Homo sapiens: one gene and its partners. The protein of the gene in region 1 purifies or fractionates together with the protein of each later gene. This does not show direct contact. Each region holds a gene or a part of one and is shown in the gene's direction. Other genes may lie near its edges. The genes, in order: KLHL1, ARHGEF7 and RNASEH2A.

What was found.
Region 2: the proteins of KLHL1 (region 1) and ARHGEF7 purify together in Homo sapiens (affinity purification with mass spectrometry; one large-scale study listed by BioGRID and IntAct). This does not show direct contact.
Region 3: the proteins of KLHL1 (region 1) and RNASEH2A purify together in Homo sapiens (affinity purification with mass spectrometry; one large-scale study listed by BioGRID and IntAct). This does not show direct contact.

Annotation. Positions count from the first base shown.
Region 1 is NC_000013.11:70,105,638-70,110,088, reverse strand, and holds the start of KLHL1 (kelch-like protein 1), read left to right. Parts: upstream 1-1,636; 5' UTR 1,637-2,389; coding exon 2,390-2,886; intron 2,887-4,451.
Region 2 is NC_000013.11:111,303,264-111,306,380, forward strand, and holds the end of ARHGEF7 (rho guanine nucleotide exchange factor 7), read left to right. Parts: 3' UTR 1-2,469; downstream 2,470-3,117. UniProt on the Homo sapiens protein: Acts as a RAC1 guanine nucleotide exchange factor (GEF) and can induce membrane ruffling. Functions in cell migration, attachment and cell spreading. Promotes targeting of RAC1 to focal adhesions. May function as a positive regulator of apoptosis.
Region 3 is NC_000019.10:12,809,459-12,811,891, forward strand, and holds part of RNASEH2A (ribonuclease H2 subunit A), read left to right. Parts: intron 1-612; coding exon 613-750; intron 751-858; coding exon 859-946; intron 947-2,433. UniProt on the Homo sapiens protein: Catalytic subunit of RNase HII, an endonuclease that specifically degrades the RNA of RNA:DNA hybrids. Participates in DNA replication, possibly by mediating the removal of lagging-strand Okazaki fragment RNA primers during DNA replication.

The DNA of each region.
Region 1 (4,451 bases):
AACTTTTAACTGTGGAATATTCTTATTAGTATTGCAGAGAAAAAGGAACTGCAAAATTAAATTTTAGAATAACAAATAAATTTTATATTACAGTTTGTGAATGGTGAATGAAAAATATAGATACAGAGACTTGACTTATGTTATTTTATATTATTTTAAATAAATCAAGTGAGATAATCCATGAAGCACTAATTTCTATATAAATTAATTACATGCACTTCAACTTTCAACATTATTTCTGATGGAAAGTTTCCTCTGTCCTGTTTGTGATGTGTAATTTCATAAACTATTTTCTTCCCTAAGGGAAATGCTTACTTGATTCCATTGTTGGATAAAAATGATCTGTCACCATTGTTGGCTTTAAAGGGTTTTTTGCTTAATAAACAAAAAACAAACAAAAAATCACTGAATACTGAGAGAAAAATCAAGGCACAAGGGATTGCAGTCCAGCTGTTGTGGCATAAATCAATATTTTAAAAGCACTATAGTGATTTTTATTCCCCTAAAAATAGGTCTTTTGTGCACTTAATTTCTTATTTTATTAAAGCGTCCAACTTTGCCTAAGGACTCCAAATTTAGCTTTGGTTTCTGGTTACGTTTACAGCTCAACCTTGGGGGTAACTGAGCAGTAGCCTAACTGCACTTCAGTGGTTGATTCCTATGCTCTGTTGGGGGTTACTGAAACTGTGAATTTCATGAATGGACAACAACCATATTCTTGGTTAAGTTAGGGAACACATTGCATTTCTGGTCCCTTTGCCTTCAACAAAGACTACTGGGTTCTATCTTAATGGCTCATTAAAGGAAAGGTTAAAACATTCCAAGTAGTCATGTACTGAAAGTGATCGCAATCCTCACCATTCTAAGTATAGATATAAGGGGAAAACACATCTTCTCCAAACGCCTATTTGCAAGATAGTAAGTAGCCTTCGGCTATTCTCATTTATTGCCTAAACTCTTCCATGCATAGTATACAATGATTTATGTACTAGAAGGTTATACCTTGAAATTCTCTTTTATCATTTTATTCCATTCTTGATTTACACTGATAACAGCTTTCATTCCGAGGCTACACACCAAATGCACTGATTTCGCAAAACCCGTCCCCCGTGTTCAGATGCCCATCTTCAAATTTCTACCGTACGCCTCTGGCCCCAGGAGTGAAGCAGTGCCTGGGTGCCTTAATAGCAGAATCACAATGTAAGTGTCAGGATGGTGGCATCGTCACATTTTGACGCCAGCATCCGTTTCTTCTGTGTCTCACTACAGAGAAACTAAGGCTAAAGGTTAAAAGACGCGGTTCATTAAATAATTCAAGCCATTAACCTGCAACCTGCAAACTGATGGCAGCCTATTAAGTTTACACTGCCATGATTCATGTGTGGTGTTTACTGATGCAAAAGCATAATGCCTGTTTTCTTTCCTTGTATTGCTACACAGTAATGTAGCGAGGAAGGAGGGTGAAAAAAGGTGACAAGACCCACGCAAGGGGACAATAAGAGCAGCAGTCTCACTTGCATAAAGAAGATTGAAGCCTTCCCTCCCTCCCTCCCTCCCTCCATCTCTCCGTATAGGCCCCAGTGCACATCTGCGTCACTTACAGGGGAGGAGGAGGCGCTGAGGCAGAGAGAAAATTGTACTGTGAGGACCTTGACAGCTTCACAGGCGGGCTTTTTCTTTTGCCTCCCTATATGCGCTAGAATATCTATTTTTCTCTTTTACAAACTGACTATATAAAACCACCTCTTCTGGCATTGCAGAAAGCAATTGACTTTCTCAGAGCCACCCGGCAGGCTATCGGGGCATCCTCGAAAAGGCCAGGGACAGGGGCGCAGGTGCACCAAGAGATCTGGCGAGGGGTACGCTTCCTCGAGACTTGGGGCTCTTTCTCTCTGCGCTCTCCAGACACTGAACTCTGAGCTGCAAGGACAAGAACGCCACCACCTTCCCTACTAAGGCTCTGCCACAAGCGCATCCCAGTGAGGTGTATCCAGCTGCAGCCGCCTCCGGAGCTTCGGAGCGCTCAGACCTCCCTCCCTCGCGCATCTCCAGCCTAAGGGTTGTCCCACCTCGCCATAACACGGGGCTCTCGCGCGGGCATCGAGGATTCTCAGCTTTTGGCGTCCCAGTCCTGCCTCTGCTCCTGCCTGGTGGTGTCCCCACGCCCAGGTCCTGCGGACCCGACCACGGCTGAAACGCGCGGCTTTGCCGTCTGCGCTCCAGCCTTCGCCTGGCAGAGCGCGCAGCCCACCTAGCGTCTTCTGGCTCTAGGGGTGCAGAGGGCGCATCCCGCCTCTTCCTCCGCCCCCGGGCCCCGCTGTCCTCCCCCACCTGCTGACCAGCCTACTCCTGCGTGAGCTGCCAGCCTTTTGCCTTCTGTGCGTAAAGCATGTCAGGCTCTGGGCGAAAAGACTTCGATGTGAAGCACATTCTGCGACTCCGCTGGAAACTCTTCAGCCACCCGTCTCCTTCCACCGGCGGCCCGGCGGGGGGAGGCTGCCTGCAACAGGACGGCAGTGGCAGCTTTGAGCACTGGGGACCCAGCCAGAGTCGCCTGCTCAAAAGCCAAGAGAGAAGCGGTGTGAGCACTTTCTGGAAGAAGCCTTCCTCCTCTTCCTCTTCATCGTCCTCCCCGTCCTCTTCCTCCTCTTCCTTCAATCCGCTGAATGGCACCCTGCTTCCAGTTGCCACGAGGCTGCAGCAAGGGGCTCCTGGGCAGGGCACTCAGCAGCCAGCCAGGACTCTCTTCTACGTGGAGTCACTAGAGGAGGAGGTGGTGCCAGGCATGGACTTTCCTGGACCACACGAAAAAGGGCTGGTTCTGCAAGAGCTCAAAGTGGAGCCAGACAACTCTAGCCAGGCAACAGGTGAAGGATGTGGACACAGGTACAGTAAGTCCCCACGGGGCTTCCAAGCATCTCTCAATTTCCACTCATTTCACCGCGTGTGCTCATGTGGCTACTAAGTCTAAAATGTTTCAGGTTGAAAATGTGGGTTAAGAGATGCCACCCTGGTTTTGATTACTCAAGTTCTAATTTCATTACAAGTTTGCTCATTAATTTCTATTGGTTCAGACACCTCACTTTTCTTTTTGGAAGTTTTCAAAGTTGTAGCCACCAATTGAACTTACATGCATTTTTGTAAGCCTTCAAGTGGAATAGTTCTCATATTCCTGAGATTATGGTGTTCTTCTGTCATCTACCGTCATTAAATTATATCAGTCGTTCCATTATCTGAAGATGAAATTTTGCTTTACACATCATCAGAATGCATCTCATATATTGGCCTAGTAACTGACTTAGCATATTATCTAAGGTCCCTGTGGTTTGAATCTATTCCAGGAGTAATGAGGTGGACAAAATGAGGCCACTGGACAGCAACATTATTTTACCTCTCTTTTTGCTCCTGAAATGCAGTCGTCTTATTCTCTGTCCCAACTTCTCTTCTGGTCCTTTTACTTTGTGTTCACTCTTGCCTTGTTCAGAGTAAGTCTTTGAGTTAAACTGTCGTGGAGTCCCTTTGCATTTAGCTGTTGTGATTTGTTGGCTCAGTATTGAAATTTTGTCTCCTTGGTAAACAGCTCAATATTTATTTCTAGTTTATTTCAAATATTATGCTTCTTTGTGTAGAGTTCTGCTACTTTAAAGACTTACAGAAAATCCTTCATAGACATAAAACTCCCAAGTTTTACATTTTGAGAGAATTGACTCATTACTATTCTAAACCACATCATTACTGGTTTTGGAATATAGTCAGGATATGAAATGATTTGCATTTAGATTCATGTGATATCAGAATACATTATTAAAGAAGAACTACAGGAGAAATATAGGAAAATGATAATGTATATATTAAGAAATTTTAATTACTACACAGTAACAAATTAGTAACAGAAGCATCTTTTTTAGTCTTTTGGTTGATTGAATCAGTTTCTTATAAATTTGATTAAGTACCAAAAAGAATAGATAAAATTATATATGTATAACCTATATGTGTATATATGTGTGTGTATGTATATATGTGCTCCCTAATTATGCTGACATATGTGGTTATAGATTTAAAAATATCCTTAAAAATTTTCAATTATATACATTATATATATTTTTTAATTTTAATTTTCAGAGATTGAACATATTCTAATGTTATATTAAGACATGTACTATAATGTAAGATAATTTTAATGAGGGAGAAGTATAATCTGGAATTATCAATTGTGTCAATGGTTTTTCCATATATAGGAGACCTAAATATAAGTTTATCTATCATTCCATTAAGTGAAATATTTTAGGAAAAAGAATTATAACGTTAGGTACTATGAATACTATGAAGTTATAAAATGTTATTAAAAGTTATTTAATATGCTAGTTACCTATAATTTTATAATTTAAAAAATCAAATGTACTGAAATTTTTATACCCTTTTGTTGAGTAAATATAAACACTTTTTGGGAG
Region 2 (3,117 bases), about 41 Mb from region 1:
CGAATGGAGACGATCAAACCATGACTGATGAATCCAGACAGGAGGGATTGACTCTGAGGACCTGAGCTACATCAATCCACTCTGTGAACATCTCAGTTACCTCATTCTGCAATAAGTTCAGTGACTGACTAAAAGTCTTGTTTTTCCAGACTTTGAATTGAATATATAAATATTATATATACATGTTTCTTGTAAATATCCCATTTTGAATGCATACCTGTGGTGGTTCTGTCCGGGCTAATCCCCATGCTAGAATGTCCTTTCCAGCTACGTGAATAAGAAGTCCCATGCCCGCATCCACCGGAAGCAGAAGCCTGGTGGATGCCTGGTTCGTTCCGCAGCACCAGGGCCTCCACCGTGCTGTGGCAGCACCCCCCATGTCGGTATTTCTAAATAACCTTATTTATACCTGCAGAGATACACTTCAGTCCCATTCAGAAGTCTTCTCTTAAAGCAGCATTACAGTCCCAGACCTGCGGGTTTCTGAGGGCAACTTGCTGGCTGACAGACTCAGTCTTGACCTCAAGGAAGGCCCATACGGCACTGCCGCATCCACCTAGAGGTGTTTGCTCTTGTCCGCTGTCTGAGTACTGTGATTCTCAGATGAGTTTGCTGCGTTTTGGGAGGACACAGACGGTTCTGTATAGGCTAGTTCAGTAACAACAAAATACACTGTTTTGTCTTCCCTCAAAGAGAGATCTTACTAGAACCTGTAAATAGAATGTATTATTTATTATAAGTCACTGCAGCTGATGAAAACAGATGGAGGCCATGCTGCAGGCTGATACTGATGGGTGGAGTTTTGTCATCAGGCCAGCCTCATCCCGAGGTCTCCTCCACCATTGGCCGTAGCCAGCAGGCTTCAGTGCTCACCGAAAGTAAAATCCCCTCCTTCAGCAAGAATAAAGCAATATACACCTTAGGTTCCACTAAGTAACATAGGCATAAGCAGGGAACGTTTCCCCCACTGTGTTCCAGTGCAGAGGAGACGAAGCCTGTCCTCACCGCGGCTCGCTGGGCCCAGGCTGGCTCTGGAAAGCCTGTGCGGTCCTGGGCAGGAAGCCCGGCCCGTGGAGCAGGTTTTCGTTCTGCTTCAGCAATAAATAAGGGTGACCACAGGGACTTTGCTTTTGGTTTCCTTTCCTGTGAAAAGGTTGGTTTTAAAGTGAGATACACTTTTCCGTAGAACAAGTGTTCTATCTTTAAAAACCCAAATTGCAGCACCGTGGATTACTGGTCTCAGAACAACTCATTGCGCATCAGATTTGACTCTCTGATTTTCTGTCTATTGGCCAAATTGCCCTTTAACTGCACCTGAATCCTTTGTGTACTGATGCCTTTGAGCTGGGCACCTTGGGAGAGTGTTGTGTTGCTGTTTACGGTTCTTCCTTGCCCTTGCTAATTACAGTCTCTGGTGCCCAGCAAGCCCCTTTGGCTTCCTTCCGTGACTGGTCACGTTGTCTGCCTGGGCTCAGCGTGGACCTGCCCCATGCTGCAGAACCTGGCCTCACCTGGACTTTTCACTAGAATTGCCAGCTTCCTCAACTTAGCAGATCATTCACTCATGCGGGCACAAGCAAAGATCAACACTTTCTTTTTTGGTAAGCTTGAGTTTTACAAGTTATTTTTTGGTGATGCGTAAGACATTGCAGTGGGAAACCATTCAACTTGAGTTTATTGGAGTTTGCTGTTGTAGCAGGTTTTAACTCAGGAACAACTCTTGTCTGATCTCTCCGCCCCTCTGCCGGGAGGCGACATTAACTGTCCTCTCGGAGCCGGTAGCGTTGCTGTCCGAGTCCCCAGGACGGATCTCCTGCAGACCTGCCTTAATGCTCAGATCGAAGTATTTCACAAGAATACTTGTGTTTTTAACAGCCCTTCCCCTGGACGGTGCGGCCATGAGGGCCTCATGTTACGGCATTGCCTTTTCTTTCTGTGGATCCAGTATCTTCCTCGGCTTTTTAGGGAGCAGGAAAAATGCGTCTGAGAGCAACTCTTTTTAAAAACCTGCCCTGTTGTATATAACTGTGTCTGTTTCACCGTGTGACCTCCCAAGGGGGTGGGAACTTGATATAAACGTTTAAAGGGGCCACGATTTGCCCGAGGGTTACTCCTTTGCTCTCACCTTGTATGGATGAGGAGATGAAGCCATTTCTTATCCTGTAGATGTGAAGCACTTTCAGTTTTCAGCGATGTTGGAATGTAGCATCAGAAGCTCGTTCCTTCACACTCAGTGGCGTCTGTGCTTGTCCACATGCGCTGGGCGTCTGGGACCTTGAATGCCTGCCCTGGTTGTGTGGACTCCTTAATGCCAATCATTTCTTCACTTCTCTGGGACACCCAGGGCGCCTGTTGACAAGTGTGGAGAAACTCCTAATTTAAATGTCACAGACAATGTCCTAGTGTTGACTACTACAATGTTGATGCTACACTGTTGTAATTATTAAACTGATTATTTTTCTTATGTCACAGAATGTGTCGCTTCGTCTTCTTTGATGTGTTTTCTGTGTGCTTGTTAGCTTTACAGTTTCTTTGGGCTGTTTTAGATTTGAAAATTCTGTCTGTCTTTGATACTGAAGATAACATGTTTCCTTTAAAGTCTAGAGTTTGAGAAAATTTGAAGATTTTTTTTTAAAAGACAAGGAAAGAACACTGGAAGTCTTAGGAACAAAAGCTGAAGTAACAGGTCACGCTGGTAGGCACAGCCCCCAGGTCCTCACCCATGCCTGGAGGAATGACCTGCATTCTGGAAGGCGCTCAGGACACCGTTTTGTGGGATCAAGTAAGCGAAACTTTCTTGAAGATATCTGTGGGGTCCCTTTTAGGAGCTGTCATAAGACAAAAGGAAATTGCTCGTGTGTGTCCCTGTGTGGCGGTGGTGCAAACGAGGGTGTCTTCCGGAAGGGTGGCCGGGAGGACCAAGCGGGGTCTCCTGTCCATGGTCCGTGTACCTGGCTCAGGTGTGTCTACAGCTCCGCTGCATGTCATTTCAGCCAGCCAGAGGTCAGGTAGCCACACGCAGTGCCCAGCCCACTGGCTTATTGTAGGAGCTCAAAAGAAGTCAGGATCTACACTTTCAAGGACTTTAGTCATTTCAGGTTAAAACAAGTAGGCGTT
Region 3 (2,433 bases), on another chromosome or scaffold:
TCACTTCCTCACCTCCTTCAAGCCTTTATTCACCACTACACCTAGCTAACTTTTTATTTTTTGTAGAAACAGGGTCTCCATATGTTGCCCAGGTTGGTCTCAACCACCTGCCCTCAAGCGATCCTCCCACTTCGGCTTCCTAAAGTGTTGGGATTACAGGCTTGTGCTAACGCACTCTACCAATTTTTTTCTAGTGTTTTCTGCCACCTCAGTTCCTAGAACAGTATGTGGCATGCAGTAGGTGCTAAATAAGTTAGAGTAAAAGCAGCGTGATAGAGAAAGCCTCTTCAGGAGGTGAGTTTTTTCTTTATTTTATTGTATTTATTTTATGTTTTTATAAAGATGGGGTCTCACTGTGTTGCCAAGCCTGGCCTCAAACTCCCAGGATCAAGCGATCCTCCCGCCTCAGCCTCCCAAAGTGCTGGGATCACAGGCCTGAACAACTTTGCCTGGTCTAGGAGGAGATGTTCGAGTTGAAATCCCTGATTGATCCATCCTGGGGACGTGCTGGAGAAGAGGATTCTGGGTAGCAGGAAGAACGTGCCAGGGCTGTGAGGCTAGAGCATTGGTACAGTTGTTTGTTCAATTAATATGTGTCTGTTGCTGTGGCAGGTATTCGTGGACACCGTAGGGATGCCAGAGACATACCAGGCGCGGCTGCAGCAAAGTTTTCCCGGGATTGAGGTGACGGTCAAGGCCAAAGCAGATGCCCTCTACCCGGTGGTTAGTGCTGCCAGCATCTGTGCCAAGGTCAGTACCCTACTAGCCATGGCTGGCTTCCACCATCCCACTATATAGGGGCCAGGCATGGCCACCAAAGGGAAGGAGGGAGATTCCAGGTGCCTGTTTTGCCCACAGGTGGCCCGGGACCAGGCCGTGAAGAAATGGCAGTTCGTGGAGAAACTGCAGGACTTGGATACTGATTATGGCTCAGGCTACCCCAATGGTGAGCAGACACGTGACCATGGTACTAATGTTGAAATGGCCAGGGCTGAGCACACTTCTGAGGTTTTCTTTTTTTCCTTTCTGTCATTTATCATTTTATTTTGCTTATTTTTTGTTTTTATTTGTTATTTTTGTTTATTTTTTGAGACGGAGTTTCGCTCTTTTTGCCCAGGCTGGAGTGTAATGGTGCGATCTCGGCTCACCGCAACCTCCACCTCCTGGCTTCAAGCGATTCTCCTGCCTCAGCCTCGCGAGTAGCTGGGATTACAGGCATGTGCCACCACACCCAGCTAATTTTGTGTTTTTAGTAGAGACTAGTTTTCTCCATGTTGGTCAGGCTGGTCTTGAACTCCTGACCTCAGGTGATCTGCCTGGCTCAGCCTCCCAAAGTGCTGGGATTACAGGCATGAGCCACCGTGCCCAGCCTATTTTTTGTTTTTATAGAGATGGGGTCTTGTCATGTTGCCCAGGCTGGTCTCAAATTCCTGGAGTCAAGCAGTCCTCCCACCTTGGTCTTTCAAAGTGCTGGGATTACAGCCATGAGCCACCACCCCTGGCCCTTTTTTTCTTCTTTTTTTAAAGAGATGGGGTCTCCCTATGTTGCCCAGCCTGGTCTTGAATTCCTGGGCTTAAGTGATCCTCCTGCCTTGGACTCCCAAATAGCTAGGATTACAGGTGTGAACTACTGTGCCTGGCTGGAGGTTTTCTAAATTGCTCTGGTCACCCTACTCCACAGTGAAAGAGGCCAAGTGTTAGACAGTGGTGCCATTTGTTTATGGCCACACAGCCAGTGAGTGATAGAGCTGAATTCCAGGCCATAGGATTGCTGCTGTCTTCCCCGCTTCCCACTTTGCTGTCTTTCTGGAGCCCCAGTGATGGACTGAGACCCAAGGTGGGCATTTGTCCCTTTGTTAAGGGGAAGGGGACCAGGCGTGGTGGCTCATGCCTGTAATCCCAGCACTTTGGGAAGCTGAGGTAGGAGAACCGCTTGAGTCCTCGAGTTCAAGACCAGCCTGGGCAACATAGCGAGACCCCCATCTCTATAAAAAATTTAAAAAATTAGCCGGTTATAGTGGTGCCCACCTGTAGTCCCAGCTACTCTGGAGGAGGAGGCTAAGGTGGGTGGGTTGCTTGAGCCCAGGAGTTGGAGGCTGCAGTGAGCTATGATTATGCCACTGCACTCCAGCCTTGGTGACAAGATGAGATCTTGTGTCAAAAAAAAAAATAATGTTAGCCAGGCGTGGTGGCTCACACCTGTAATCCCAGGACTTTGGGAGGCTGAGGCAGGTGGATCCTTTGAGGTCAGGAGTTCTAGACCAGCCTGACCAACGTGGTGAAACCCCATCTCTACTAAAAATACAAAATTAGCTGGACGTGGTGGCACACGCCCGTAATCCCAGCAACTCGGGAGGCTGAGGCAGGAGAATTACTTAAACCTGGGAGGTGGAGGTTGCAGTGAGCCGAGATCGCATAATTGCACTCCAGCCT